Linked DNA regions of Homo sapiens. The protein of the gene in region 5 purifies or fractionates together with the protein of the main gene of each other region. This does not show direct contact. Each region holds a gene or a part of one and is shown on either strand. Other genes may lie near its edges. The genes, in order: CSDE1, DROSHA, DRC1, MIEF1 and ZNFX1.

The links.
Region 1: the proteins of ZNFX1 (region 5) and CSDE1 purify together in Homo sapiens (affinity purification with mass spectrometry; one large-scale study listed by BioGRID and IntAct). This does not show direct contact.
Region 2: the proteins of ZNFX1 (region 5) and DROSHA purify together in Homo sapiens (affinity purification with mass spectrometry; one large-scale study listed by BioGRID and IntAct). This does not show direct contact.
Region 3: the proteins of ZNFX1 (region 5) and DRC1 purify together in Homo sapiens (affinity purification with mass spectrometry, with the first as the bait; one large-scale study listed by BioGRID). This does not show direct contact.
Region 4: the proteins of ZNFX1 (region 5) and MIEF1 purify together in Homo sapiens (affinity purification with mass spectrometry; one large-scale study listed by BioGRID and IntAct). This does not show direct contact.

The regions. Positions count from the first base shown.
Region 1 is NC_000001.11:114,749,788-114,755,763, forward strand, and holds part of CSDE1 (cold shock domain-containing protein E1), read right to left. Parts: intron 421-5,976; 5' UTR 34-420; intron 1-33. UniProt on the Homo sapiens protein: RNA-binding protein involved in translationally coupled mRNA turnover.
Region 2 is NC_000005.10:31,507,177-31,513,152, reverse strand, and holds part of DROSHA (ribonuclease 3), read left to right. Parts: intron 1-1,976; coding exon 1,977-2,118; intron 2,119-4,377; coding exon 4,378-4,532; intron 4,533-5,976. UniProt on the Homo sapiens protein: Ribonuclease III double-stranded (ds) RNA-specific endoribonuclease that is involved in the initial step of microRNA (miRNA) biogenesis.
Region 3 is NC_000002.12:26,407,614-26,413,589, forward strand, and holds part of DRC1 (dynein regulatory complex protein 1), read left to right. Parts: intron 1-5,976. UniProt on the Homo sapiens protein: Component of the nexin-dynein regulatory complex (N-DRC) a key regulator of ciliary/flagellar motility which maintains the alignment and integrity of the distal axoneme and regulates microtubule sliding in motile axonemes.
Region 4 is NC_000022.11:39,505,290-39,511,265, forward strand, and holds part of MIEF1 (mitochondrial dynamics protein MIEF1), read left to right. Parts: intron 1-4,132; exon of another isoform or gene 4,133-4,282; intron 4,283-5,976. UniProt on the Homo sapiens protein: Mitochondrial outer membrane protein which regulates mitochondrial fission/fusion dynamics.
Region 5 is NC_000020.11:49,255,828-49,261,803, forward strand, and holds part of ZNFX1 (NFX1-type zinc finger-containing protein 1), read right to left. Parts: intron 4,751-5,976; coding exon 4,636-4,750; intron 1,838-4,635; coding exon 1,590-1,837; intron 121-1,589; coding exon 1-120.

The DNA.
Region 1 (5,976 bases), on a different chromosome or scaffold from region 5:
GAACTGATTCTTAATAGGAAATTACAAACCTACCTCGCAGTGATACTCAAATATTGCACTTTCAGTAGTATTTGCTGATTCTTCTTTTTCAGCACACGTTTCAAAGGATGAAAGTTGCTAGTATTAAAAAAAAGAGCGAGAGAAAATGATCTACCAAGCTAATAAAGAATACAACTGCTGCTGTACCGGGCAATCTCACAGTACAGCACTGAAGAAAACAAAGACTACTAGCAGCGTTGGGAAGTGCTCTTTCAAAGCTGTTGAGTAGGCACAAACTTCTTGTTTCAGATCAAGTGTTGTGTCTTCAACTTAAGTGTACTCTTCTTTGGTCTTGTTAGTTGTTACGAGGTTTGTTCCTTGCCTGATCTGAACTTGAAGCAGCAGTTTCAGGTGGTAAAGTCTGTTCTGTTACACTTCATACTAAAGGTAAAAAATGAAGACATTAAGTATAACATACATAAAATAATCAGGGACAGTGGGTGAGAAGAGGGACAAACTCATTTCATTAACTTAGAATCATGGGTCATGCAAGTAATGCAGGAAACTTGGAAGCATGCTCATCTGATGTTATTTGGAGCAATCTCTCAAGTACTAGCAACTACCTCCTTTGGTATCTCATACCCAAGACCTCAAATTATTCCATAGTCTTTATTGACCTCTTCCCCCAAATAAGCTCAGTTACATGGCATAATGTTTAATTTAGTGCAAGTATTTTATAAGGATCTAGCTCTGTGGAAAACATAAAAGAAGTCCCTGCCATGAGAGCATAGACAATCTTGCTGAAAAGACAAGATGTAAACATGGAAAAAAAAAACAGAGTATAGGACAAAAATGCCAAAAATTATTTTGCTCAATTAGTATCTAGGTATCTATTATGTCACAGACTATCTAGAAATATTATTTATTGTTTATCCACAACTGCATGTCCATCAAAGCAACCAAGGCTTTTAAATAAGTGGAATTTGAAGTGAACCTGGAAAATCAGGCAGAATTCTAGGAGAAAGAAAATAGCTGAGTATTCTAGGCATGAAACAGCACATAAGTCAAGCGAGAATATGCCACTAAATTCTTTCTTCAGAGCAGCGACCATGCATTCTATGATTTTCTAAGCCCAGCATCAAGTGAAGTCTTCTGCATGAATGCCTGTGGCAACATGTGTGGCTTGTTGTTTCAGAGGAAAATCAACAGGCTAGCCTGGCTAGAACAGAGAGCTGGGCTGAAGTGAAATAGGATATGTAGTGTGACAGGTGTAGCGGAGCCCGATTATGAAGCATTTCAACGTGATGTAACAGGAAACAGTGCCTTAGTTTTTGATGAAAGTGGTATTAAGTCTTGAAATCCTAAAGGAGATGACTTAGTAAGCAAACAGAAATCTCATTTGCACTGCTGCAGTAAATAGATGAGAAATGTCTATAGAAGAGAAATAAAATTTATTTATCAGTAAAAATCACATTTCTGCTTTATATTAGCTATAAAATAAACAACAATTTTGCACTGACTCCAAAGTTACAAAATGGTGTTAACGAAAATTATTTCTACAGAGATAAGAAAAAGGTGTACGTGCTGAGAAATGGATATTTGAAAACATCAGAAGAATGATTATCAGGTGAGAGGTCAGAGCTGATTAAATAGCTCAGACCAGAAGAGCCTAATCGCAATCACTGGTACTAGTAAATACCATGAACAAGTTATTTAATCTCTCTAAGTTTCACTTTCCTCACATGTAAAATAAAAACTCAATAACAGCTGATCTGGCCATTTTCTATTCTCTAACATCCCATGTTCCTTCAAATATCAAATGTTACATACACTTGTCTGATCTTTCAACTTTATTTAGATCATTCTCCTATTACCCAGACTAGATATATGTCTCAGGGTAATGGTGCTCAAATACTTGGGAAGCTTTAAAAAAAAAAAAACAAAAACAAACCTATGCCCAGCCTCCACTCAGAGTAATACAACTGGTTTGAGGTAGGGCCACTTCTTTAACTATCTTGATTCTTCCCCTCTCCATCACCATACCCAATGTTGCAAGTTGTGTTAGTATTTCCCTCGCTATATCTTTTGTATTCATCTCTTATCCTACTAAGTGACATATTTTAGCTCAGGTGTCTAATATATCCGCCAACTTCCAGTGTGCACACTTTCCATTTTCTGTCACATACCACCACCAGACTATCAAAAACTTGAATTTTGGCCAGGTGAGTTGGCTCACGCCTGTAATCCCAGCACTTTGGGAGGCCTTGGCAGGAGGTCTGCTTGAGCCCAGGAGCTCCAGACCAGCCTGGGCAACGTGGAGAAACCCCATCTCTACTAAAAATACAAAAAATTAGCCAGGCATGGTGGTATACGCCTGGAGCCTCAGCTACTTAGGACTGGGAAGTCAAGGCTGCAGAGAACAAGATAGTGACACAGCACTACAGCCTGGGAGACAGATCAGAACCTTGTCTCAAAAAACAAAACAAAACAAAAACTCTCCAATTTCATTTCTCATCTCCCCTGTCAAACATCTTCAGTTATTTTTCCACCATTCTAGATGGGAAGTTTTTAATCCTGGCTATCCACCCACCCCCAGCAACCTTAAACAAACAAACAAACAAAAACCAACAAAATCAAAGCCTGAGTCCCGTACAAAGATTCTAAATTTAACTACACTAGGTTAGGTGCCAGGCCTTGTTATCTCCCCCCAACCCCTGCTCCAAGTGTTTCTGACTTCCAGCCAGGATTAAGAACTACTATTCCAGGTGTCTCTATTCTACCTTCCATCCTTACTCTCTACTGTGTTCCAGTTCTACCAGAAGTCCATTACCTCGCCTAATCCTTAAACACAACTCTTGGGAGATTCCTGAATTCTAGCCACCTTTGCTTATATGGGTCTTCCCACAAAAAAATACTATGTTGTGATCTTCAAGGTGACAAAAAAGCCTTTCTTGACCATTCCAGCAGACTCATTCATTAATTCCTACTAATGAATGGGGCAGTAACATCCACTGCCTGCACCAAGCAATTTGCAGCAAGTGATACCAAGCAATTTCTGTACTTTGTTTACTTCATGTTTTTATGTATCTTGTTCCTCCAATTCTATTTCAAATTTCTGAGAGGTAAACTCAAATTTCTTTATCACAGCCTCCTTTCGCACCTAATCCAGTGCTGCCATATACAACCAAAGGAAAAAGGTAGTTAATCCTTAATAAGCAAAAGGACGCCACAATTCAAGTGTAAACAGTTATGCCACAATTCAAGTGTAAACAGTTATACCACCTTTAATTATATAGTTTTAATTATCCAATCAAGAAATAATCTCTTCTTTAAAAAATACAGACTGTGTATATTGGTTTTATCTTAATGCTTTAGGTGTATTAATGAACCCAAAGAACTCAACATGGAGAAAACAAGTTATCTTGAAACACTTGAACTGGATTAACCCATTCCAGGTTGTCGTATCACATTAAGAACTGTCAAGTCCAAGATTCAGTAACACAAAAAAAGAGATTTCTGGAACTGAAACTCTGGAGTACTGCAGGGCCATTCTTAGGCACTAATGAGGTCTATTAGGAGCTATTAAAGCTCAAACGAACCCACCAACAGTCATGAATAATTTACTGGCCGAATTAACATCTTCACAGCTTCTATAGTTAACTAAATGTTTTTCAATTAAATTAACACTTACTGAAGAACTTAAAGGTATTGGTCAGGCAGTTTAATATAAATAGCTATCCACTCATGCCCGGATTAACATTAATTGGTGCTACTAACCACCTCTTTTGCCTTAACCCTAGGAACACAAGTGCATCTCCTCCATCCCCCTAAAAGCTTGAAACTTAAGTTGCATGAAACACTGGGTATTGGGCTGGGGTGGTGGCTCTCGCTTGTAATCCCCAGCACTGTGGCAGGCCAAGGTGGGAGGATTGTCTGAGACCAGCCTGGGCAACATGGTGAGATGCTGTCTCTACAAAAAATTTTAGAAATAAAAAATAAATTCACTGGGTGTGGTGGCATGCACCTGTAGTCCCAGCTACTCGGGAAGCTGAGGCAGGAGGATCACTTGAATCCAGGAGTTTGAGGCTGCAGTGAGCTATGACTGTGCCACTGCACTCTTGCCTGGGCGACAGAGTAAGACGCTGACTCAAAACAATCGCCCCCACAAACCCACCATAGGGTACCAATAAAAACACTAGGGAACAATTTAAATGTGTATCTGAGAATCATACTGTGTGCTAAGTAATCAACTCCTTTTCCCTTTGCTCAGCATGGAAATAGTATTATTACTTAATCACTGCAATCTCCACCTCCCGGGTTCAAGCGATTCTCCTGCCTCAGCCTCCCCAGTAGCTGGGACTACAGGCGTGTACCACCAGGCCTGGCTGGCTAATTTTTGTATTTTTAGCACAGATGGGGTTTCACCATGTTGGTCAGGCTGGTCTCGAACTCCTGACCTCAAGTGACCCACCTGCCTCAGCCCCCCAAAGTGCTGGGATTACAGGCGTGAGCCACTGCACCTGGCCACCACCTGTTTTATTTCATGTCTTCCTCGGCTGTTTTACCTCAAAGGCCTAGCATAAGCCATGACATAGTCGGCACTAAATGAAGAGGTTAAACTAACACATTTATGTGGTAAGTAATCCATCTAAAATGTATCACACTACCTAGTTTATTATTTTGAAAGTATGTGCAGCACTCACTTCGGGAAAAGTTAATGAAAGGCTAAGCCAGTCTACAAAAGTCTGCTCACCTAACCCACTTCCTTTAGGCAGTATCTTCTTTTAGGCAGGAAAAAACAAAGACCCAAATAGGTAGCATAGGACTGAAAAGTTTCTCTATTGCCTGACATTTCATTGAGCACCACATTTTATAACTGAAGTGCTTAATAGGTCTTAATTCATTTTTACTTTAGGATCTAAGGTAAACGATAAACTCTAGATAATTAACCAACCTAAGTCATCTGTTGAGTAAAAATAAAAAATCAAACTGACACAACTATCTTTTTGTATCTGTGTAGTAACAACTGTGCTGGATTAATTATCTAAACAGCTACTGAGATATTTAAAATTATCTATCACTTAACTGCTTATATATACACCCAGAAACCTAATAGTTTTAAGCAGGACAAATGGCAGTGTGGGAAGATGCTGAAGAAACATTCTAGACACATCAGAAAACACCACAGACCAGCAGTTTCCAACAGAAATACAGTGTAATTATAATTCTAGTAACCATATTACAGTCAAAAGAAACAGAAGGAATTTTAATTAAACGTCTTATTTAACCAATTATATCCAAAATGTTATTCTCTACAGGCAATCAATGTAAAAAAATTGACACTGTTACATTCCTTGAAATCCAATGTTATTATACAATCACAGCACATTTCAATTCAAACTAGTCACACTTCAAGTGCACAACAGCCACACGTGGCTGGCGGCTACCATGTTCCACAGAGTAGGTATAAACTGAGCAGGGGTCTAAAAAAGCACTATTGTGCCAATTAGCAACAGGAAGTAAATGTAAGGGTCTTGAGCAAAGATTTTCACTAATAAAAGTAGGCAGTATCTAGCATAGAAGCTTGTTGTTAATAAATTGGAGAAAAAGAAGTGCAAATAACTGGTTATGTACCGGCTGTAGCTGCAAATCAACGGATAGCTTACATGTGCAACATAGGGGAAACTGATAATTTTCAGCCACACACTGTTTTACCTCAGCATAAAAGGACATTAAAATATTAAAAAGTTTTGTGTTGTTTTTAACTAGGTACCCACACATGCAAGTGGAAAACATTCTAATATCAAAACAAAGGACTTTTTAAAATCCTGACTGGGCAGAAGGGATTTAACAGCAAGTCACTCTCACCATAGTAGTTTCACCACTTACAACAGTCTAGCTATTAAAGCTTACAAAATAGATCTCAAAGTGCTTCCTCTTCTGTTTTCTGCAAGGACAAAGCTAAGAAGAAGGCACATCAATTCTTTGTGTTTACTT
Region 2 (5,976 bases), on a different chromosome or scaffold from region 5:
TCTCCTTTCATCCCTTGACTCCCCTTCCATCCCTTTACCAGAGCCATGTGACATGCCTACCCCAGGGATTCATTTTTCCTTACTGCCATGACAGAGTTCCACAAATGGCATGGCTTGAAACCGCACACATTTGTCATCTCACAGCTTGGGAGGTCAGAAGTCCAGCATGGGCCTCACTGGCTCCATCAGGATGTCAGCAGGTCTGTGCTCCTTTATGGAGGCTCTGGAGAAAATCTGTTTTCTTGCTCATTCAGGTTGCTGGCAGAGTTCAGTTGCTTGTGTCTGGAGGACAGAGGACCTTGTGTCCTTGTTGGCTGTCAGGTGTGGGCACTTCTTGGTTCCTCCAGGCCATGTGCATTCCTTGACTTGTGGATCCCTTCCTCTGTCTTCGAAGCCAGCAATGGTGGTCGAGTCCTTCTCGTGTTTTGAATATCTCTTGCCTCTTTTTCTGTTGTATCTCTGACCCCTGTTGGCAAAGGTTCCCTGATTTTAAGGATTCCTGTTCTAAGATTGGGTCCACCCAGCTGCAAATCCTTTTTGCCATGTAAGTTAACATATATATTTAATTTCTGGGGATTAGGACATGGACATCTTTGGGAGGGGCTGGTGGCTCAGCCTACCTTCCCAGAGATCAGGAGTTCTCTTCTCCAAATCTTACAGAATCCTGCTTCTATTAGGAAGAAGGGAAGAATGGCTGCCATAGGTGTTATTATTCTTAAAACAATAAAGATGAAGACACTGAAGTTCAGGGAGTTTAAACAGGCAGGGCTGGTTGTTTTTTATTACATCGTTATGAGTATATTAAAACTCCAGTGTAGGAGGAAGACTGATAAACTCAAAAGGCTGACATTTGCCTTTGAGTTTTGTCGTCTGTGTGGTGCAGAGAAGGTGGTGAGAATGTCAAAGCTATACCGGCATCGCCACTCCCAACAATGAGATGGGGCCTGAATTATCCCCTCTTCTGGGTACCAGATTTTATGATTTGCCTTAATTTTACATTTGACAGGTCTGGTTTTTACATTTTAAGGCTACTAAGTCAGAGTGTGGAGATGTAAAGTGATTTTCAACCTGGAAATTGAGTGAGGAAAAGTGGAAAATTTTCTCTAGGAATCTGTTGCAGAGTCCCGTGTTTGTGGTATGTGTTTGTGTGTGTGTGAGAGAGAGTGTGTGCATGTTTATGTCCTCGTGTTTAAGGCATGAGAGTGTGTGTGTGTGTGTGTGCGTGTGTGTGAGAGAGAGAGAGAGGGGATATATAGGATATTTCTTATTGCTCGATGGATTGATATAGGAGAAGATAGGTTATCAGTGATTTTCAGTAGGAAGTGTACATTCCCTATGAGGGTATTTGATGTCAGTTGTCATGATTCTCTGAGGGTCATGATTTTTTAAAAAATGTCATATTAATAGGGCATAGATGAACTGTTCTAATGTTTCTTTTCTGTTTTTTTTTTTTTAGATGAGGTCTCTCTATGTCACCCAGGCTAGAGTATAGTGGCACAGTCATAGTCATAGCTCACTGCATCCTCCAACTCTTGGGCTCAAACAGTTCTCCTGCCTTAGCCTCCCAGGTAGCACAGGCACACACCACCTGGCTAATTTTTTTCTTTTTCATAGAGGTGGGGTCTTGCTATGTTGCCCAGGCTGGTCTTGAACTCCTGGCCTCGAGCAATCCTCCTGCCTCTGCCTCCCAAAGTTGCTAGGATTACAGGCGTGAGCCAGCACGCCTGGCCTGTTCTAATGTTTCTGAATGTTGGCAAGGCACATTTACCTGAAGACTGTGTCAGCGATAAGTGTGTGTTTGATTCAGAGTATGATTGCCAGTACTTGAGCATTTTGTTTTTAAATGTTTGTTAAATTTAGGGTTGAAAAATAGCATCTTGCTGTTAAAAATGCTTTGATTACCTGTGAGATCTTACATATCTTTGATATGATCGTTATTGATATAGTTCCTAATATTGATCCTTTATTTTTAAAAGGGAGATTCTACAGTGGTTGGAACGAGTAGGCTTCGTGACTTATATGACAAATTTGAGGAGGAGTTGGGGAGCAGGCAAGAAAAGGCCAAAGCTGCTCGGCCTCCGTGGGAACCTCCAAAGACGAAGCTCGATGAAGATTTAGGTGAGTCAGAGTCACTAACTAGCCTGAGACCCTTGCGATTATAGCTTCATTCCTAAATTTTGGGGAAATACCCTTGAGAGTCCCACATTGAGATTTCTTCTTTTTCATTTTATTTTTCTTAATTACAGTCAGTAAGATACATAGCAGTAGAACTTCCTTCTTTTTGATCGTATTTTTCCTTAGTTCATTTGGCAGAATACAGCAGCGATCTCATTTGCAAGGCATGCTAACAAGGGTGCCCCTTGGAGAGTTGTCCAGTCAGAAGAGTTCAGCATCTTTCCGAGAGCAGGAGCCCATGCCCCCTGCCTCTCATGAGGACAGGTGTCCTTCCTTGGCCCTCTCCTTTGCCAGGTGCGCCTGGTTTGATGAGGGAAACAGCGACTGTACCCCAGCTCTGTTTGAAGGTTTCTCTCCACTTGTGTAGACAGTTTGCATAGCTTTTTCATAAGGTGGTCTATTTTTTCATGTGTATGTTCTGAGGTTCCAAGTAGGTTGTGAGATCTTTGAGAATGGAAATTGCTTTTTATCACTTTGTATCCTTAGCCCCTAACAGAATGCCATGCACAGATGAGACATTCAGTGTGCATTTAGCTACATGTTCTCTCTAGCTCTTATCTGCCCACCTCCATTACATCCCACACGCTGAGAGGCAGTTATCCATACTGGGCAAAGACACCTGAGTTGGGAGTTGGATGGCTTGGGTTTGAATCCCTGCTCTACCACCTACTTGATATGTGACCTTGGGCCACAGGTTAATCTCCTTAGATTTTTCCCATTTGTAAAATAGGGATGACAGTAGACAGTAGCATCTATCTCATGCAGTACATGTAAATACAACTCCATGTTGGATTTCATTATGCTACTACTATGTTAATCTCTTATAGGATTAATTTATTTTAAAAATTAATTATTTTTCTTTTTGTGGAGATGGAATCTCACTATGTAGGATTAATCTAACTTCTAGGTCTGTTTTTTTTTTTTTTCAAATTGTGGTAAAATATAAGTAATACAAAATTTACCATCTTAACTATTTTTAAGCGTACAGTTCAATAGGGTTCAACATGACCTTGTTTGCAACCAGTCTCCAGAACTGTTTTCCTTTTATAAAACTGAAACTCTGGACCTGTTAAGGAATAACTCCCCAGACCCCAGTTCCCCCGTTCCCTTATTACTACTATGCTACTTTCTTCCTCTATGAATTTGACTCTCAGGCATCTCATATATGTGGAATCATGTAGTATTTGTCTTTTTGTGACTGGCATATTTCAGTTAGCATAAGTCTGTGTCTGTTTTTATTCAGTCACTTTAAGGACTAACACCTTCTCTTGCTGTTATTGAGGGAAAAGAAATGTCAAGTCTTTGGTCTTGCATTCCCAGCCTTCGCTGTGGCATTCCCAGCACTCCCAGCCCCTAACCTCCCAGTGTTTTTCCGTGTGGCCCGCGCTCTAGCTAGTCCACTGTGTTCTTAGCTCCACGCTTTTGCCTACGATGCTCCCTCTTCATTCCTTTCTTCTTTTCTCCTCCTTATCATGCTTCTCCCATCCTGTTGCAGTGCCTGGGTCACATGTGCTCCTTCTTTGAAATTATCACCAGCCTTTCTGGATCCCAGTGAAACTGCCCTTTTATGGATCATTACATAGCTTAAGTGTTAAACTACGTACTACTACTATGGTTTTTCATTTTATCTGACATTGCTCATCAAGTCTTACTTTCTCTCTAAAGATCTTTATTTTCTTTGCTTCCCCAACTAGATTGTGACTTAGCATTATGGGCTATATTTTTTTTTTATGGTGTTGCTTAGTAGAGTATTTGGTGTAGAGTAGGCCTTTAAGTATTTTCTAGAAGAATAAAGAACTCTTCTTACCTTTAGAGGTTTAGGTCATTTGGAAGCCTCCACAAAAACCAGTTTGTCAGCCGGGTGCGGTGGCTCATGCCTATAATCCCAGCACTTTAGGAGGCCGAGACGGGTGTTTCACCTGAGGTCAGGAGTTCGAGACCAGCCTGGTCAACATGGCAAAATCCTGTCTCTACTAAAAACACAAAAAATAGCTGGGTGTGGTGGCAGGCGCCTGTAATCCCAGCTACTCGGGAGGCTAAGGCAGGAGAATCACTTGAACTCGGGAGGTGGAGTTTGCAGTGAGCTGAGATCGCGCACTGCACTCCAGCCTGGGTGACAGAGCGAGACTCCAACTCAGGGAAAAAAAAAAACCAGTTTGTTAATTCCATCAATTTCTGTATTTTTCTCCCAACCCCTGTTAGAGAGTTCCAGTGAATCCGAGTGTGAGTCTGATGAGGACAGCACCTGTTCTAGCAGCTCAGACTCTGAAGTTTTTGACGTTATTGCAGAAATCAAACGCAAAAAGGCCCACCCTGACCGACTTCATGATGAACTTTGGTACAACGATCCAGGCCAGGTGCGTGTTTTTATGCCCTTGCTGTGAAGGTTGCAAACCCAGACATAACGGTTATTGCTCTGGGCTCAGAAGATACATGTTGCCTAGTATTGAAACTGAATTTTACTGTCAGGGTTTTGTCCTTCAGAGCTATTTCTTTTCAGCTTCAGGTTAGTTCCAAAGCATAAGCACCAGAGCAGCTGTCCCTTGAATCATTTTTGATGATGTTTGTAAATTCCATGTTGGGGAGAGGAGTAATGGCCCTGCCTCATTAAATTGCAGTAGATGGAAGGAGACACATGGTAGGATGAGGAGAGAGAACTTGGAGGTCTTTTTAGAAGTAGTTCACCTGGAAGGTATCTTGCTGCAAAATAGTAAATAAGTCCTATAAGATTTCTTTTTTTTAGTTGGTAACAGTCACAAGTTCTCTTCCTTGTTAAGCATGTTTGAGCTAAAAACATAATAGGTGGACATAATTATTTTTATTTTTAATTACTGTCTTAATATGAAGTAATACATAATAAAATTAGCATTGTTAAAAAAGATTTGTGTCACACAGATATATAATACATACAAAAATTATATCTTTAATGCATGTAAAGTTAGGAAGCTAAGGCATATCTGTAAAAAGATAATTTAAAATTTATATTTTGTGAGTAAATTTATAACATTCTATATTAATTAAAATGCTTTTCTCCTGGTTCTTGTTAGATGACAGCTATCCATCTTTTTTTTATAGAACGTCTGGCAGAAATGTATTTTGTGTGTTCCTTTTACTCTTTGGAATTGAGCAGAAATGTTTGCAGAACTGCCAATGCATTTTAAAACTTGGTTTTCTTTTTAAACAGCTTTGTTGAGTTATAATTTACATATGATACAATTGTACTTCAAATTTATAATCCAGCATTTTTTAGTATATTCATGGGGTTGCACAACTATCCCTACAATTGAATTTTAGAACATTTTTTGTCCCCCGTAAAATAAACTTCCTCCATATATGGGTTTTTTTGTTTTTTTGTTTTTTTTGAGACCTGGTCTCACACTGTTGCCCCGGCTGGAGTGCACTGGCGCAATAACGGCTCACTGGAACCTTGACTTCCCAGGCCAAACCTGCTTCAGCCTCCCAAGTATCTAGGACTATAGGGGCGTCCCACTATGCCTGGCTAGTTTTTTTTTTTTTTTTGAGACAGAGTTTCGCTCTTATTGCCTAGGCTTGAGTGCAATGGCGATCTTGGCTCACTGCAACCTCTGCCTCCTGGGTTCAAGTGATTCTCCTGCCTCAGCCTCCTGAGTAGCTGGGAGTATAGGCATGCGCCTCCACGCCTGGCCAATTTTGTATTTTTAGTAGAGATAGGGTTTCTCCATGTTGATCAGGCTGGTCTCGAACTCCCGACCTCAGGTGATCCACCTGGCTCAGCCTTCCAAAGTGCTGGGATTACAGGTGTGAGCCACTGCGCCTGGCCTG
Region 3 (5,976 bases), on a different chromosome or scaffold from region 5:
AAAGGCCAGAAGACTCCTTGGCTTACTTCGTCCGACCACCCGGCACCCTCCTCCTCATGTTTATGGTTCCAACCTGACAACAACCCTGGACCACAGAGACCTCTTCCTGGACGACTGCCAACTTCAGGCCAGTTTGGACCGGTTCCCTGAGACTGCACAGATCCTGGACTTGTGCCCTAAGCATCACCTTTTTGCATTTATGACCCAATTGTAGTACATTTAAATGTTAAATCTCCACCCCAAAGTGAACATGAGTAGCATATTGTTGTATGTTCCGTGCACATGTAAGCCTAATGCACGTGCGTAATGAGTTTTCTCCGTAAATATTCACAACCTTCTCCTATATCCTGTAGAATATGCGTTTCCTACCTCCTCACCTAGCAGAAATATCTGCCTTATTTTCTCCCCTTCAAAGCCTGCTTCTCAGTCTCAGTTGAAAGCTTGCTTCCTGCCTGCAGGTTGTGTCCTTTAGAAATAAAGTTCTCTTTTGATTTTGTGGATTCTGACTCTTTTTCAGTTGACATCTAGAAGTGGAGGTGACAAAGGGAACCAAAATAAGGACAACCGATTGGAAAATTAATAGGTAGATGCCTAGAACCTTTCTCTCTCTTTGCACAGAAGATTGGAGGTTTGGAGAAAGTCAAGCGGAGGATCTAGGGCTTGGGGGATGCTAGACAGAGGCGAGGCAAGGATACTTCATGGAAAATAAGGGGATTCAGGGAAAATATGCACAGTGGATGCCAGGACCTTCCAGCTCTCCTCTCACCAGTTCCTGGAATGGTGGCACTTCAGCCTTCATATTCCAGGCAGGAGGCTGGAGAAGTTTCTCTGTGGAATCCGACCAGCCCCAAAAGAAGGATTTAAAGACACTAATGTTGGTCTGGGCACAGTGGCTCATGCCTGTAATCCAGCACTTTGGGAGGCCAAGAGGGGTGGATAACCTGAGGTCTGGAGTTTGAGACCAGCCTGGCCAACATGGTAAAACCCCGTCTCTACTAAAAATATGAAAATTAGCGGCGTGGTGGTGCATGCCTGTAATCCCAGCTACTTGGGAGGCTGAGGCACGAGAATTGCTTGAACCTGGGAGGCGGAGGTTGCAGTGAGCCGAGATCGTGCCACTACACTCCAGCCTGGGTGACAGAGGGAGACTCTGTCTCAAAAATAAAATAAAATAAAATAAAAATAATAAAGACACTAACATCGGGTTTGCTCACAAAGCAGCCCGATTAAATCAGCCCACGCTGACATGCACAGTTGTTAAGCCACACCCTTGTACTCACAGCTCCCGTCAGCTTTAAAAAAAATTTATTTTTATTATTTATTTATTTATTTTTTAAGCAACAGAGTCTCACTCCATTGCCCAGGCTGGAGTGCAGTGGTTTGATCATAGCTTAGTATAACCTTGAATCCTGGGCTCAAGCAGTCCTCCTGCCTCAGCCTCCTGAGTGTCTGGCACTACAGGTGCAGGCCACCATGCCCGGCTAATTTTTTTTTTTTTTTTAGAGATGGAGTCCTGCTATGTTGCCCAGGCTAGTCTTAAACTCCTGGGTCAAGTGGTCCTCCTGCCCTGGCCTCCCATAGTGCTGGGATTACAGGCATGAGCCACTGTGCTCAGCCCCATCAGCTTGTTTTTAATGTTTAAATTTTTATTTGTCACACTATTAAAATTTATTTTTTCTGCTTTATCCTGACACCATATTACAAGCTTCCAAATGGCTAGGGACTTAGATTGAAATGATACTAATTTGTCCTTATTTTCTCTAAATTCTTGGATTCTGTATAATCAGGTGTGTTTATGTACACATAACCAAAACAAACCATCCTTTATGTAGTTTTTTTTTAAAGGCAGCTGTTTCTTTAACAACAACTAGGTAGCTACTGTGAAGATGGTGACATGTAAAATTGGTAGTATTAGTATCCTTTTCCCAAGTTGTCATGGAAGTTACCATTATACTTATAGCTTTAGGTCTTTGGTACATCTCAGACAAGATAGGCAAGAATTTGGAGAACATTTTGAAAATAAGAGCAATAGACACATTCAGCAACAACTAGAATAATGGAACTCAAAGTTCTAAAATTACATGATATAAGTGAAAACAGCTTTAAAAGCTACCTCATAAGAGTTGTTTTATCATTAGCTTGATTTTTTCCACGTAAAACAGTGTTTATTTATTTTTAACCCATGTTTTAATTTTTTCATAGGCTTTTTAGTTCTTGTCATGAGTCAGTAACTGAGGATTTCTAGGCATCTGAGGAAAGTCTTTAACATGAATGGTAGATATGAAAATTAACAAAGAGAAAAAAGCACCTAAGAGGACATTAAGACTATATGTGGGGAGAAAAAAACAAGAATACCACAAAAAGATGATCATTCAGATCCTCAGAGAGAGTTTTGAAGTCTTTGGGGGAAAAAGAGGGAAAAAAAAGATCCTCAAAGAAAAAAGAGATGATATGGCAACCACGAAACAAGAATAGAATGCTACTAAAAGGAGTGTTCAGAGAAAAAAAATAGAGCTCTTAGAAATAAAAAAATTATAGAAATAGAAAACATTAGAAGGGTTGGAAAATAAAGATGATGAAATCACCTAGAAAATAGAGCGCAAAGAAAAAAGGTAGAAACTTATAGAGAAAATATTATTATTATTATTATTATTATTATTATTATTATTAATTTTGATACGGAGTTTCACTCTTGTTGCCCAGGCTGGAGTGCAATGGCATGATCTCGGCTCACTGCAACCTCTGCCTCCTGGGTTCAAGCAATTCTCCTGCCTTGGCCTCCCAAATAGCTGGGATTACAGACACCTGCCACTATGCCCGGCTAATTTTTGTATTTTTAGTAGAGACAGGGTTTCACCATGTTGGCCAGGCTGGTCTCGAACTCTTTACCTCAGGTGATCCACCCGCCTTGGCCTCCCAAAGTGCTGGGATTACAGGCATGAGCCACTGCACCCAGCCAGAGAAAAATATTTTTTTTTAATTAGAAGATATTATCACTTTTCTAGATCCAGAAAGAATGGAGCAGGGAGCATATTATCATGGAAAGAATTCAAGAACATGTCTCAGACCTGAAGATCATGAGGTTCCTGATTGAAATGTCTAGCACAATGGATGAAAATAGACCCACCCTAAGGCACACCATTGAGAAAGTTCAGAACACTGAGAATAAAGAGAAAGGGCCTACGAGCTTCCAGAGTGAAACAAAACAAAACACAACAAAACAAAACAAAACAAAAACATGGTCACATATAAAAAACAAAAATATGGTCACATACAAAGAAAGGCATAAAGACAGAATGACTTCAGGTTTCTCAGTTAGCAACACTGGAAGGAAGCAGTGAAGGAAAGTTATTTCCAACCTAGAACTCTAAACCCAGGTAGACAATCAACCAAGTTCCAATTTTTTTAAATCCTGAGAATTGGTCAGGAAGTAGAGTATTCAAGATGGCAGCTCCCATTTAGACCACAAACATGGGGCGGTGGTGAGGAAACAGCTTCCCAAAAGAGGACTCAGCCCCCAGGAGGGAGGGAGCTCAAATCTGAATAGACAGAAGTCTGAAACAGTTGCTTTGGAGAACATACTAGTTCTACACTGCTGAACAACAGAAATACAGTATCAGCCACATATGTCATTTCAAGTTTTCTAGTAGCCACATTGAAAGTGGTAAAAACAGAACAGGTGAAATTAATAATTTATTTAACCCAATATATAAAAGTATTATTTTAATATGCAATCAGTGTAAATCATACTGATGAGATATATTGCAAATATTTTTTGTTCAAAGTCTTCAAAATCCATCTAGAGTGTATTTTACACTCATAGCGCATTTCAATTTGCACCAGGCACATTTCAAGTGCTTTATAGCCACATGTGGTTATTGGCTACCATATTGGACAGTACAGTGCTAAGCAGTAAAAAATGATGCATAAAAGACAATGATGAGATTTAAGTTAATAGTAGTTAATAAGAATTTATAGCATATCTGCAGACTGGCCAACATGGTGAAACCCCATCTTTACTAGAAATACAAAAGTTAGCTGGGTGTGGTGGTGCGTGTTTGTCGTCCCAGCTACTCGGGAGACTGAGTCAGCAGAATTACTTGAACCTGGGTGGCGGAGGTTGCAGTGAGCCGAGATGGCTCCACTGCACTGCAGCCTGGGGACAGAGCAAGACTCTGTCTTAAAAAAAAAAAAAATTATAGCATATCTGGACTGCATGGTTTTTTTGTTGTTGTTGTTGTTTGTTTGTTTCTGAAGCACTGATCTTTGATCCAGAAAGCACTTGGAAGGGATTATTTAAATAGAGTTGGTCATTAATTGGTGGTCAAAGTAGAAAGTCAAGGGAATTTTTTGAGTGGTGATGGGAACATGATAAGCCTGGCAATAGCTGAAGACCTGAGTAAAATGGAACAATTAGTTTACTTGGTAAGAAAACAAAGAGCATGTTCAATAAGAATAGGGAAGCCAATGAAATGACAAGAAAAAAACAAGGGGTTTTGGTTAGATTGGGAGTGGAGGATGGTAACTCAATTCTGTATCTCCAAAATAGTGTTACACTAGGTAGGATTGTCCTGGACTTTGAACAAAGGGAGTAGAGATGGAAGTCAGAGTTAGAAAAAGTCAAGAAAGAATGAGATAAAGAGATCTGCTAGGCTGAGGCGGGAGAATTGCTGGAACCCAGGAGGCAGAGGTTGCAGTGAGCCGAGATCGCGCCATTGCACTCCAGCCTGGGCAACAAGAGCGAAACTCCGTCTCAAAAAACGAAATGAAACCAAACAAAAAAACAAACCTGCTGTGTCATGTTGAGGTTTCATTTTTCCTAAGGCAGTACTGGTAGCCCTTATGGACACTGTGTGCCAGAGGAGAGAGCAGGGTCTTGATGATGTAAGTGGCGTGGGGGTTGGTGAGGTCACTCCCCCATGCCTCCCCTGAAGAAGTCTATAATCTGGAACTTTATCTCGCCACCGCCCCTTTAGTCTCATTTTCTGATTCACACACACAGACAAGCACACACACATGCACTATTTAGAAAATTCATGCAATACAAAAATGTAGAAAATAGAACTTCTCAGTAATTTAATTCCTGTTCTTTAAGTAATTGCTGTTATTCGTTTGTCATATATACTTCCAGAAAATGTCCTGTGCACATATAAGCCTGTTTTTTGTTTTTGTTTTTGTTTTTCAGACAGAGTCTCGCTCTCCCGCCCAGGCTGGAGTGCAGTGGCGCTATCTCGGCTCGGCTCACTGCAAGCTCCGCCTCCCGGGTTCACGCCATTCTCCTGCCTCAGCCTCCCAAGTAGCTGGGACTACAGGCGCCCACCACCACGCCCGGCTAATTTTTTGTATTTTTAGTAGAGACGGGGTTTCACCGTGTTAGCCAGGGTAGTCTCGATCTCCTGACCTCGCGATCCACCCGCCTCGGCCTCCCAAAGTGCTGGGATTACAAGCGTGAGCCATCGCGCCCAGCCAAGCCTGTTTTAAAAAGAAAATGTGTATTATAGTCTACATATTTTTCTAAAACTGGCTCCCTTTACTTAACTGCTGTGGACATCTTTCCCTGCTGTTAGGTATTACATCATTCTTTTTGTAGGCTACAAAGTATTTCTGAAATATTGTTTTCTCTTAATTAGTCAGCTACTAATATGTATGTAGAATGTTTCCATGGTCTTACGAGTATTGTCAGTGCTACAATCATCTTTCTCGTGCATATTTATTTATGTACTTGTAAAGGCTTTCTGTAAAAAATTCCTAAAGAAAGGATTGTTGGGTCAGAGGGAAGGCACATTTAAGCTTTTGACAAATCTTGCCGAATTGCCTTTTAGACACGTTGTTATACTTTACATTCCCACCCATGGAATGTGGAAAGCTGGGCTCCCACCTGATACTGTCAACCCTTAAAATCTTTTTTAGTCTCATAATAGAGTAATGACACCTCACAGGGTTTTGGTTTCTCTGATTATATGTGAAGCTGACCAT
Region 4 (5,976 bases), on a different chromosome or scaffold from region 5:
TCCTCCCTTCTCAGCCTCCTGAGTAGCTGGGACGCCAGGCATGTACCAATGTGCTCAGCTAATTTTTTATTTATTTATTTTTTTTGTAGAGACGGTCTTGCTATGTTGCCCAGGCTGCTTTCAAACTCTTAGCCTCAAGCGATCCTCCCACCCTTGCCTCCCAAAGCTTTGGGATTATAGGTTCAAACAGCTCTGCCTGTCCAGAAACTGCACTTTGTAGTCTGGAAACTTAAGTCTGATGTGGCCAGCATGGTACCCCTGTAAGGCAAATAGCCAGAGTTGAGGCTGGGCCTGGTCTGGAAGGACGTTGACTCCAAGTTGAGATTGTAATGTATATCTTCTTATGTGGGGACCATCACAGCTCTGTAAACAGAGGAATGACATAGCCACATTTGTATCGTAGAGGGAGCATACCAGTGGCAGTGTGAAGAATAAATTGATGAGAGATACTAGAGGCAGTGGATGTAGCCAGATCAGATTGAGGGACCGAGGGGTGGGGGTGGCCACATATAAACACAGTGTGTACAGCAGTGGGACTTGGTGATCAGTTGGCTGAGGCAGGAGGAGGAGAGAGAAAGATGAAGAGTAACTGGGTGTAAGGCCTGCCAGCTGGGTGGAGGGTGCTGCTTTTAACTGGGGGAGGGAAAGTAGGAAGAGAGCCTTATGTAATGACTTTTGGTTCTTCTCAGCCACTTAGGATTGGCATATCTGCCTTTGGCAGTACAGGGCCAGGGGTGGGGTGATGCCCATGGGAGCCTGTCTGCACAGGGAGGGTTGGCTAGCGGATCTAGGAGGGAATTAGGGCGTTCCTTGAAATCTTTGTGTTCCTAATATATTTTGGCTGTGAGTTGGGCTACACGCTGCTATCACTACCCCCTCAAAAAAACCAAGAAACAAAACGCCGTAGAGTTAATACTTCATTCCCACAACATATACTCCCTATGCATCAAACACTGCACACCCTGGGGATGCAGCAGTGAATGAGCCCAAATGTCCCCCAGAAGCATATGGTCTGGGGGTTAATGGAGTGGAGATGGGAACAAGGTGTGGAGCAAGTACCTAGGACCCCTGTAGATTAGTTCTCCGCACCGCGTGATCTCAGGGTTCAAATCTTGGTCACATACTTTACTGACACAGTGACCTTGGGTCAGTTACAGAAACTACTCAGTTTCTTCATCCTTTAAATTTGGGATAATATTACTGATCTCATGGGATTGTTGTTGTGAGGATTGAGGGAATTAATAATAAGTGTAAAATTGCCAGCACATAATACACACTCAATATCTGCTACCTAGTCTCGTACATACTCAAGCAAGATAGGTTTATAAAAAGGCCTATGGCTTTTTCAATTAAAATAAGTTGGAACTTTCACACTTCTGTGCTGTCATCCTAGGAAGCCGCAAGGCCTCCATTATTCATCATCCTTAACTATATTAGGGTGATGAGCATTTCTGTTCCCATTTTTGTATCTAGCGAGACAGGTTAAATAACTTGCCTGAAATATTGGCAGAGCTGAAATTCTCCATCCCTAGTTCTGCCCACCAGGTCTGTGTTCCTTCTTTGTTTTTTATTTTAACCATCTTAACCATTTTAAAGTGTACAGTTCAGTAGTAGTAAGTATATTCACATTGTTGGGTAACAGAGCCCCAGAACCCTTTTCATCTGGCACATCTGAAACTCTGTACCCATTAAGCAATGGGGTTCCTTCATGACAGTCCCGATTGGAGGTGGAGTTCTTACCTGCTAGTAGGCTGTAAGCTTATGCAGCAGAACCTGAGTGGAGAGCGTGTCATGGAGAAGCAGTTTAAACTGGAACAAGTTGAATTAACTTTTCAAGTAAGGTCCGTGTCTGTCTGTTGAGCTTGTGGATGCCGTCTTCTGTTCCAGGTCACCAGGTCTGTGATGTCAGTCCGTCCTTGGATGGTGGGCGGGGGGTGCCTATTGCACTACAGTAGGAAAAGCCTTTTTTTCTTGAGATGGAGTCTTGCTCTGTCACCCAGGCTGGAGTGCAGTGGGTGCAATCTTGGCTCACTGCAACCTCTGCCTCCCGACTTCAAGCGATTCTCCTGCCTCGGCCTCCCGAGTAGCTGGGACTACAGGCGCCTGCCACCACACCTGGCTAATTTTTTGTGTTTTTAGTAGAGACAGAGGTTCACCGTGTTAGCCAGGATGGTCTCGATCTCCTGACCTCGTGATCTGCCCACCTTGGCCTCCCAAAGTGTTGGGATTACAGGCGTGAGCCACCGTACCCGGCCGAAAAGGCTTAACAAGCTGGCCCAACTTAATAGTTTTGATCTCAGCTGTTGGCTCACGCCTGTAATCCCAGCACTTTGAGAGGCCAGGGTGGGCAGATCACCTGAAGTCAGGAGTTCGAGACCAGCCTGGCCAACATGGTGAAACCCTGTCTCTACTGAAAATACAAAAAATTAGCAGGGTGTGGTGGCTCATGCCTGTAATCCCAGCTACTAGGGAGGCTGAAGCAGGAGAATCACTTGAACCTGGGAGGTGGAGGTTGCAGTGAGCCGGGATTGCCCCACTATACTCCAGCCTGGGTGACAGAGTGATACTCAGTCTCAAAAAAAAAGAAAAAATAGTTTTGATCTCAAGTCCAAGATGGCATCACTGCGAATTTTCAAGGCCGTTTTAGAGCAGTCTCAAAAGGTGCACTGTCACTCAGAGGACAGTCTGGGTTGCTGACTGACTTCTGGAAGCTGACCTTTGTCCTGTGGATGGAAATCTTAAAAGACTAGAGGAGAACTCATTTGTGGAGCACTTTTACAGTTTATAGACCATCCACTGCAATACAGTTTATACCGTTCACATACAGGATTGCAGTGAATGGTTTTTCCTCACTACAACCCTGTGATTTGGTCCCACGCGGGGACCATTATCCCCTTTTCGTAGCTGAGGTGTTAAGTAACTCATTTGAGGTCACCCAGCTAATAAGTCAGGGCTCAAGGCAAGTTCTGTATCTCAGGATTTCTGACTCTAAAACCCACGCTCTGTTCTGTCATCTGTAGCACCACCTTGCTCTCACCAGTCATCAGAAGGGCACCAAGGACTAAAATGGTCCAGGGAGGCTGCTTCTGCCCTGAGTGAGGAGGTGCCCTTCTGGCCCTGCTGCATCACACTCAAGGATCATTTAGAGGGCACATGTGTCCAGTGGCTCTCCCTATTGTAAATATTTCAGTAAAGAGTTAAAACAAGAGACATTGTTATGTGTGGGGAAATGTATAGTGTTCTGCTTTTCTCCTGATTGGGTTATCTTGCCTCTGCTAAGTTTGGTTTGTCCCGTCTCTATCTCAGTGGCCACTGGAGAGAGGGTGTCTGCTGTTCTTCCCTGATTCCACCTGTAAATACAAACGTTATCTCTTCTCCCTGGCTTTGCTCTGTGCATTTGAGGTGGGAATGTACTCGGTTTGGCGAAATAGTCTTTCATGTCCCTAAACCTGAAGCCTCTATTGACTGTAAATGGTAGAGAAAAGGAAAGTACCCCCAAGGTGTGAACTCTAGTTAGGGAAAAAAATATTTTTGGGCTTGACAGTGACTCTTAGTTAACTCAATTACTGGAATAATAGAGTCAGAAATATTTCTTTGTTTTTCAGGGAGGTAGAGGCAGGAGCGTAAGATGTGGAAGCTAGAAATATCCACTTGTAACACGGTATTAGAAGGAATGTTATTTTACATGGAAGATAATCCTCAGTGATCCTTTTTTTTTTTTCTTCAAGACGGAGTCTTGCTCTGTCACCCAGGCTGGAGTGCAATGGTGATTCTCCTGCCTTGGCCTCCCGAGTAGCTGGGATTACAGGCATGCACCATCATGCCTGGCTAATTTTTTGTATTTTTAGTAGAGATGGGGTTTCACTATGTTGGCCAGGCTGGTCTTGAACTTCCGACCTCGTGATCCACCCACCTTGGCCTCCCAAAGTGCTGGGATTACAGGTGTGAGCCACCGCGCCCGGCTGATCCTGTCTCTTGATGTCCTCCCATTCTGGGACGCTAAATGGTATCCGACTTTGTTTTCCCTTATGTCATTCCTGGTGTGAAGGACACGGGATATTATAGAGGAGAGTGGCAGCATGCTGAGTGGTATTCCGATCTGAATCACACTGTCATCCTTTATCCGGCTCAGGCCCAGGGTTCTAACTCCACAGGAATGGGCTTATCTGGGGACTGCTGCTGCTGCAGTCAGGAAGACTCCACTGTAGTCGGGAGCAGCACTGGCCTGAGCACTGCACTGGAGGCCAGCCTCTTCGCTGTGGTGCCCAAGTACTTCTTTCAGGTGAACACATTTTTAGTTCCTCTTCCAGGTGTAATCGAGCAGATGGGTGTTTTGTTTTCCAGTTAGCAGTCGAGTCTGCAGTGTCCTTTGTGTTTTTTATCTCCCGGTATACCAGTCTCACCTAAGCTTTTATAGTCCCCGCTGCGCACTTCTCTCAAGAAACAAAGCATTTGTCAAGTAGGAGGGTCCATGGAGGGACCTTTCTCACATATGGACGTGTAGTTTCAGTTCCGTGTGCAGGATGTTTGGTACATGTTGTTTTGTGTTTTGTTTGCAGAAAGTAGATAGAATAAGGGCCGATTTGATTTGGGTAAGGGTGAGCATGGTACAGTAGAAAAAGCGTCATACAAGGAGTGGGGAGTCCTGAGTTCTGGAGATGACTGTGTCGTTTTGTTTTCGTTTTTGAGACGGAGTTTAGCTCTTGTTACCCAGGCTAGAGTGCAATCGTGTGATCTCGGCTCACTGCAACCTCCGCCTTCCGGGTTCAAGGGATTCTCCTGTCTCAGCCTCCTGAGAAGCTGGGATTACAGGCATGCGCTGTCACATCTGGCTAATTTTATATTTTTAGTAGTGACGGGGTTTCTCCATGTTGGCCAGGCTTGTCTTGAACTCCTGATCTCAGGTGATCCGCCTGCCTCGGCCTCCCAAAGTGCTGGGATTACAGGCGTGAGTCACCGTGCCCGGCCCATTTTGTTTTTTTATTTTTATTTTTAAGAGATGGGGTCTCACTCTGTCACTGAGGCTAGAGTGCAGTGGCGTGATCATAGCTCACTGTAGCCTCAAACTCCTGGGCTCAAGCATTCCTCCTGCCTCAGCCTCCTAAGTAGATAGGACTACAGGCATGTGCCACCATGCTCAATTTATTTTTATCTTTTACTTTTGGAGATGGGGGTCTTGCCATGTTGCTCAGGTTGGTCTTGAACTTCTGGCCACAAGCGATCTTCCCACCTCAGCCTCCCGGGTAGCTAGGATTATAGGCATGAGCCACTGCGCCTGTACCATTTCTTTTCTCTGAGACCTGACACATCACCTCCCTATGTTGAGAACCTCTGTGTGAGGTGATGTGATGGCATTAGATGAGCTCCAAGGTCCCGCTCAGATCTAACCTTCCACAAAGTAGTGGCCAAAGGACGAAGAAATGACCTGCATTATAACCCCTGTGATGGGGTAGAGAGACCTGCTTTATAACCTCTGTGAAGGGGTAGAGAGACCTGCATTATAACCCCTGTGAAGGGGTAGAGACCTGCATTATAACCCCTGTGAAGGGGTAGAGACCTGCTTTATAACCCCTGTGAAGGGGTAGAGACCTGCATTATAACCCCTGTGAAGGGGTAGAGACCTGCATTATAACATTGTGAAGGGGTAGAGACCTGCATTTTAACATTGTAAAGGGGCAGAGAGAGGGCTGTTTTGCATGGTGGGGTACTTCATTGTAATACAAAAAAGGACTGACACTGAGCTTAATGCTTTCTTAATCTCACTAGCTTGGGGAAAGTTTTCCTACAATACCCAAGATCAGCCCCTCCTCCTTGCATCCTGATCTATCATGGGACATTGTAGCTCCCTCCAGACCCTAAAGCATGCAGTGCTGGAGGCAAGAAGATTTGGGTTGCTGGAACTCACAGAGTACCCTGTACTTGTTGGGGTTTGGCTTGTTAGGGGAGGGAGGTTCTTGGGGTCCCAGTACTTATGGC
Region 5 (5,976 bases):
ACTGAGGTCCAGCTGCCAAACATCCTCGATCTCGTTGGCCTCGGCTGCAGTCATGGTGTTCAGTTTGCGAAGCTCATCCTTCACTCTTTTTTTCATTTTCTTTTTCTGGTTGCGCTGGGTCTGCAGACATCAATACCAGGCAGGGTACTGTCTGAGCAGAGGCAGGCTTGGTTTTAAGCCCAAGGCAGGGGTCACAGCACGTAAGAAAAAGGGCTGGCATCACTGATTAATGTCAAGTGTCTTACATTCTCCCAACAGCTCTTCCACTGTAGAGTGGCTAAACAAGGACTCTGGAGCCAGTTTGCCTGGCTTCAAAGCCCTACTCTACCTCTTACTAGGTTGTGGGACCTAGTAAGGTAAATGACCTAACCTCTGTGTCCCTCAGTATCACCTTCTATAAAATGGGAATAATAATGGTATCTCTTTATAGGATTGTTGGCTTGTCAGGAGTAAATACGTGGAAAGCATTTATACTAGTACTAGCACTAGTTATCATTAAACATCTTTGACCATAGCCTGTTTCTTGTTCCTAAAATGCATGCCATGAAAGTCATGGGGGTGGTACTTTCTTGTTGAATGCTGTACAACCAGTGCCTAGCAACTGGTGCTTCACACAGGACTTGGCACAGTGCCTGCTAAAACGGTCCTACTGCCATCGTATCAACACAGTACCTTTAACAAGTGGTGGAAAGCACTGTTTATGAGAAAGTGCTCTCTTCTGGCCGTCACTGAGTCTGAGGCTATGAGCCTTTAGAAGGCTCGCAAGTCAGACAGATGTCACTAAATAAAGATCTTCCCGCTGCTTCAAAATGAAACAAATCAACCTTTCCTGATGCCTCCTGGGAGAGATGCTGAATCTGTGCTTCTAAGAATTGAGATCATGACTCCGCTCACCACATATAGTGATACTGAACTGAACTAGATCAGGTGCAAAGCCAGCACTCAGATGAAAACTGCATCCAAAGTTGCCCTTGAAAGTTCTCAAATCATTGGTAAGGTTTACAAATTCTTATTTTGAATATCTAATCCTCGATCATCATAGTTATGCATGGTAAACAGTGAGGACTACTAGGCTCCACCAAAAGGAGCAGAGGGAAGGCTACATGAAGACACCTGGGCATTCATACAATTCTGGCTTTAAGAGAAGTGTCAAATTCCAGGCTGAATGAAGGAGGAATATTCCATCCAGCCTGGAGGTCTCGCTTCATTGCTTACTTTAATCCTCTAAAATCTTAGTACATGTTCACAAACTCATTTGAAATAGAGAAAACAACACTCCTGAAGGCATTAAGTACTGAGACCGTGTTTGACCTGACTCATATGTGCTACATTCTTCCACAAGTTCTACAGAAGCACTTGGCTACCTGCTTCCTGTCTTTCTAAGTTGGCATTTCTTGCCAGAGGCCCTCTGAAGAACCATCGTATTTATATCCTTGGGAATCACTAAAGCCATCTCATACCAGGGGTAGGCTGTAATACAGGTACTTAGCTAATTGTAATGGTGAAGTGAATATACTGTATCAGAAGTGGGGGAAAACAAGCGGTCAGAACACTCTCAGGCCTGTTTCAACCCAAGGAAGTGAGTTTACCTGCCACTCTCCTGTGGCTTGCTCCTGTCCAGCTGCTGTCCCAGTGCCACAATGGTCTAGCCTCATGGCCAGAAGCATTTTAGCCAACTCCTGGTCTGCTCCACTCTCTTCCTTCTTCCGCCGCTGGGGCCTCACCACCTCTTCCTCCTCAATCACCCGGTCTGCTTGAATCAGGTCAGCTTCCTCTGCGATCTCTATCAGCGAACTCTCCTCCTCCCCTTCTTCCTCCTCATCCCCTTCTGCCTGGGCTAAGAGAGAGAAACAGGCAGGAGAGAGATGAAAACTCTTTTTTTTTTTTTTTTTGATATGGAATCTCGCTCTTTTGCCCAGGGTGGAGTGCGGTGGTGCGATCTTGGCTCATTGCAACCTCTGCCTCCTGGGTTCAAGTGATTCTCCGGCCTCAGCCTCCTGAGTAGCTGGGATTACATGCACCCACCACCACGCCTGGCTAATTTTGTAGGCTAATTTTGTATTTTTAGTAGAGATGGGGTTTCACCATGTTGGTCAGGCTGGTCTCGAACTCCTGACCTCGTGATCTGCCCGCCTTGGCTTCCCAAAGTGCTGGGATTACAGGCGTGAGCCACCGTGCCTGGCCAGAGATGGAAACTCTTGAAGCTAAGGGACAGAAGACGGCACCTGCAAGAGCTCAGATGCATGAAGACATTATCAAGGGTTTATGTGATTTTTTTTTTTTTTTTGAGACGGAGTTTCACTCGTTGCCCAGGCTGGAGTGCAATGGCACAATCTTGGCTCACCACAACCTCCACCTCCCGGGTTCAAGCGATTCTCCTGCCTCAGCCTCCCGAGTAGTTGGCATTACAGGCATGCACCACCACGCCCAGCTAATTTTGTATTTTTAGTAGAGACAGGGTTTCTCCATGTTGGTCAGGCTGGTCTCGAACTCCCGACCTCAGGCCTGCCTCGGCCTCCCAAAGTGCTGGGATTACAGGTGTGAGCCACTGCACCCAGCCCTATGTGATTATTTTTGAGAAGAGAAACTAAAAGGAATGAGAGGAGAGTTAGGAAAGGCTTAAGGTCTCCTTATATACTTTTTGTTACGTTTTACGTTAAAAAATCATACGAATATATGCCTTTTAAAGAAAGGTTTTGGCTGTGCGTGGGGCTTATGCCTGTATCCCAGCACTCTGGGAGGCTGAGGTGGGTGGATCACCTGACGTCAGGAGTTCGAGACCAGCCTGGCCAACACGGTGAAACTCTGTCTTTACTAAAAATACAAAAATTAGCCAAGTGTGGTGGCGCATGCCTGTATTTCTAGCTACCTGGGAGGCTGAGGCAGGAGAATCACTTGAACCCAGGAGGTGGAAGTTGCAGTGAGCCGAGATCGTGCCATTGCACTCCAGCCTGGGCAACAGAGTGAGACTCCATCTCAAAAATAAATAAATAAGGCTGGGCGTGGTGGCTCATGCCTGTAATCCCAGCACTCTGGGAGGCCGAGGTGGGCAGATCACCTGAGGTCAGGAGCTCAAGACCAGCCTGGCCAACATGGGGAAACCCCATCTTTACTAAAAATACAAAATAAGCTGGGTGTGGTGAGTGTGCCTGTAATCCCAGCTACTTGGGAAGCTGAGGCAGGAGAATTGCTCGAACCTAGGAGGCAGAGGTTGCAGTGAGCCGAGATCACACCATTGCACTGCAGCCTGGTGGACAGAGTGAGACTGTGAGACTCAGTCTCAAAAAAAAATAAATAAATAAATAAATAAATAAAATAAATACACAATAAATAAATAAAGGTTTTACTTATACCAAATACATATACAATGGAGGGCATACAATGTAAATATGTAATATAAAGGATAATAAAAATATATAAAATGAATACCCAAGTACCTTCCACCCAATTTAAGTAGAAAACTGACAAATTTTTTGAAGACCTTTGTTAGCCTTCCTAACCCGAATTTTATATTACTCATTTCCTTTTTAAAAGATAATAATGTTACCACATTTATACTGTATCTAAGTAACACATTGTCTAGTATATATGTTTCCATAACTTGCCTTTTTTTTTTTTGAGACTATGTCTGTCACTCAGGCTGTAGTGCAGCATTGCAGTCATGGCTCACTGCAGCCTCAACCTCCTGAGCTCAAGCCATCCTCTCGCCTCAGCCACCTAAGTAGCTGGGACTACAGGCACGCACCACCACACCCAGCTAAACTTTTTCCTTTTTTTTTTTAGTAAAGACAGGGTCTCATTATGTTGCCCAGGCTGGTCTCCAACTTCTGGGCTGAAACGATCCTCCTGCCTTGCACTTGCAAAGTGCTGGGATTACATGCATGGGCCACTATGCCCGGCTAACTTGCCTTTTTCATTCAGCATGTTTTTGAGATTCATATGTGTTACTGTATATGCTGTGTTTCATTCCTTTTCACTGTTGTACAGTATTTCATTATCTGAGTTGACTTAATTGATCCATCCATTGAAGAAATGTTGATGAACATTTGAGTTCTTTCTGATTTTCTGCTATGATAAAGTGGTTATGTAAATTTAAATATCCCCAGCAGCAGTGCATCAGAGTTTCCATTGCTTCAAATTCTCATCAACATGGGGTTATATCAAACTTTAATTGTTGCCAAACTGGTGTGTAAGTAATAGTTATCTCATTGTGGTTTTAATTCCTCTAGTTTTTAATGAGCACTTTTCATATATCTATTGAACAATTTCCTATTTTGTGATGTGCCTGTTAAAAGTCTTTTATCTCATTAGCTGCGCGTGGTGGCACTTGCCTGTAATGCCAGCTACTTGGGAGGCTAAGGCAGGAGAGGAGAATCGCTTGAACCTGGAAGGTGGAGGTTGCAGTGAGCCGAGATCACACCACTGCACTCCAGCCTGGGCAACAAGAGTGAAACTCCATCTCAAAAAAAAAAAAAAAAAGTATTTTATCTCTTTTCCTTATATTAAGCTATTTGTCTTTCTCTGATTGACTCATAGCTCTTTATTTATTCTGGGAATTATTTTTAAGTCTCACTGTTCTGGTATTTACTATATTCTACGTTAAGATTTGATTCTAGGAAGACATGCACTTCTTACCTGTATTCTCAGGTCCTGCTGGAGAAACACTTTGCGTGAAAGAACCGACACCAAGACCTAGCCACTCCAGCATCATGGAATGCTTCCAGTGCTGGAAGCAAATCCATTCACTATCCTAAGGAAAGAAGAATGATCATTTGTGAGGATTCTATGACAACCAATGTGAAGGCTGGGTCTCCTCAAAGAATCAAAAGCAGATTGGGGCATGGTAGCTCATGCCTGTAATCCCAGCAATTTGGAAGGCCAAGGCAGGAAGACTGCCTGAGCCCAGAAATTCAAGACCAGCCTGGGCAATACGGTGAGACCCTATGTCTTTAAAAAGAGAGAAAAAAAAAAGACTGGGCGTGGTGGCTTGCGCCTGTAATCCCAACACTTTGGGAGGCTGAGGCAGGCGGATCACCTGAGGTCACGAGTTTGAGACCAGCCTGGCCAACATGGTGAAACCCTGTCTTTATTAAAACTACAAAAATTAGCCAGGCATAGTGGTGCATGCCTGTAGTCCCAGCTACTCAGGAGGTTGAGGCAGAAGAACTGCTTGAACCCGGGAGGCAGAGGTTGCAGTGAGTGGAGATTGTGCCACTACACTCCGGCCTGGGTGACAAAAGCAAGATTCTGTCTCAAAAAAGCTGGGTGTGATGGCATGCACATATAATCCCAGTTACCCAGGAGGCTGAGGTGGGAGGACTGCTTGAGCCCAGGAGGCCGAGGCTGCAGTGAGCTATGATTATGCCACTGCCCTCCAGCCTGGGCTCAAGACCCTATCTCAAAAGAAAAAAGAATCAAAAGTAATTCCCTTAAAGTTTATAGGCTGTACTATTCACAACAGCAAAGACATCTAATCAACCTAAATGCGCATCAATGAAGGACTGGATAAAGAAAACGTGGTACATATATACCATGGAATACTATGCAGCCATAAAAAAGAATGAGATCATGTCCTTTGCGAGGACCTGAATGGAGTTTGAGGGCATTATCTTTAGCAAACTAACACAAGAACAGAAAACCAAATACTGCATGTTCTCACTTATAAGTTAAATGATGAGAACACATGGTCACATAGAGGGGATCAACACACTGGGGCCTATTGAAGGGTGGAGGATGGGAGGAGGGAGAGGAGCAGGAAAAATAACTGATGAGTACTAGGCTTAATATCTAGGTGATGTACAACAAACCGCCATGACACAAGTTTTTTTTTTTTTTTTTGAGACAGTCTTGCTCTGTCGCCCAGGCTGGAGTGCAGTGGCACGATCTCGGCTCACTGCAAGCTCTGCCTCCCAGGTTCACACCATTCTCCTGCCTCAGCCTCCTGAGTAGCTGGGACTACAGGCGCCCGCCACCATG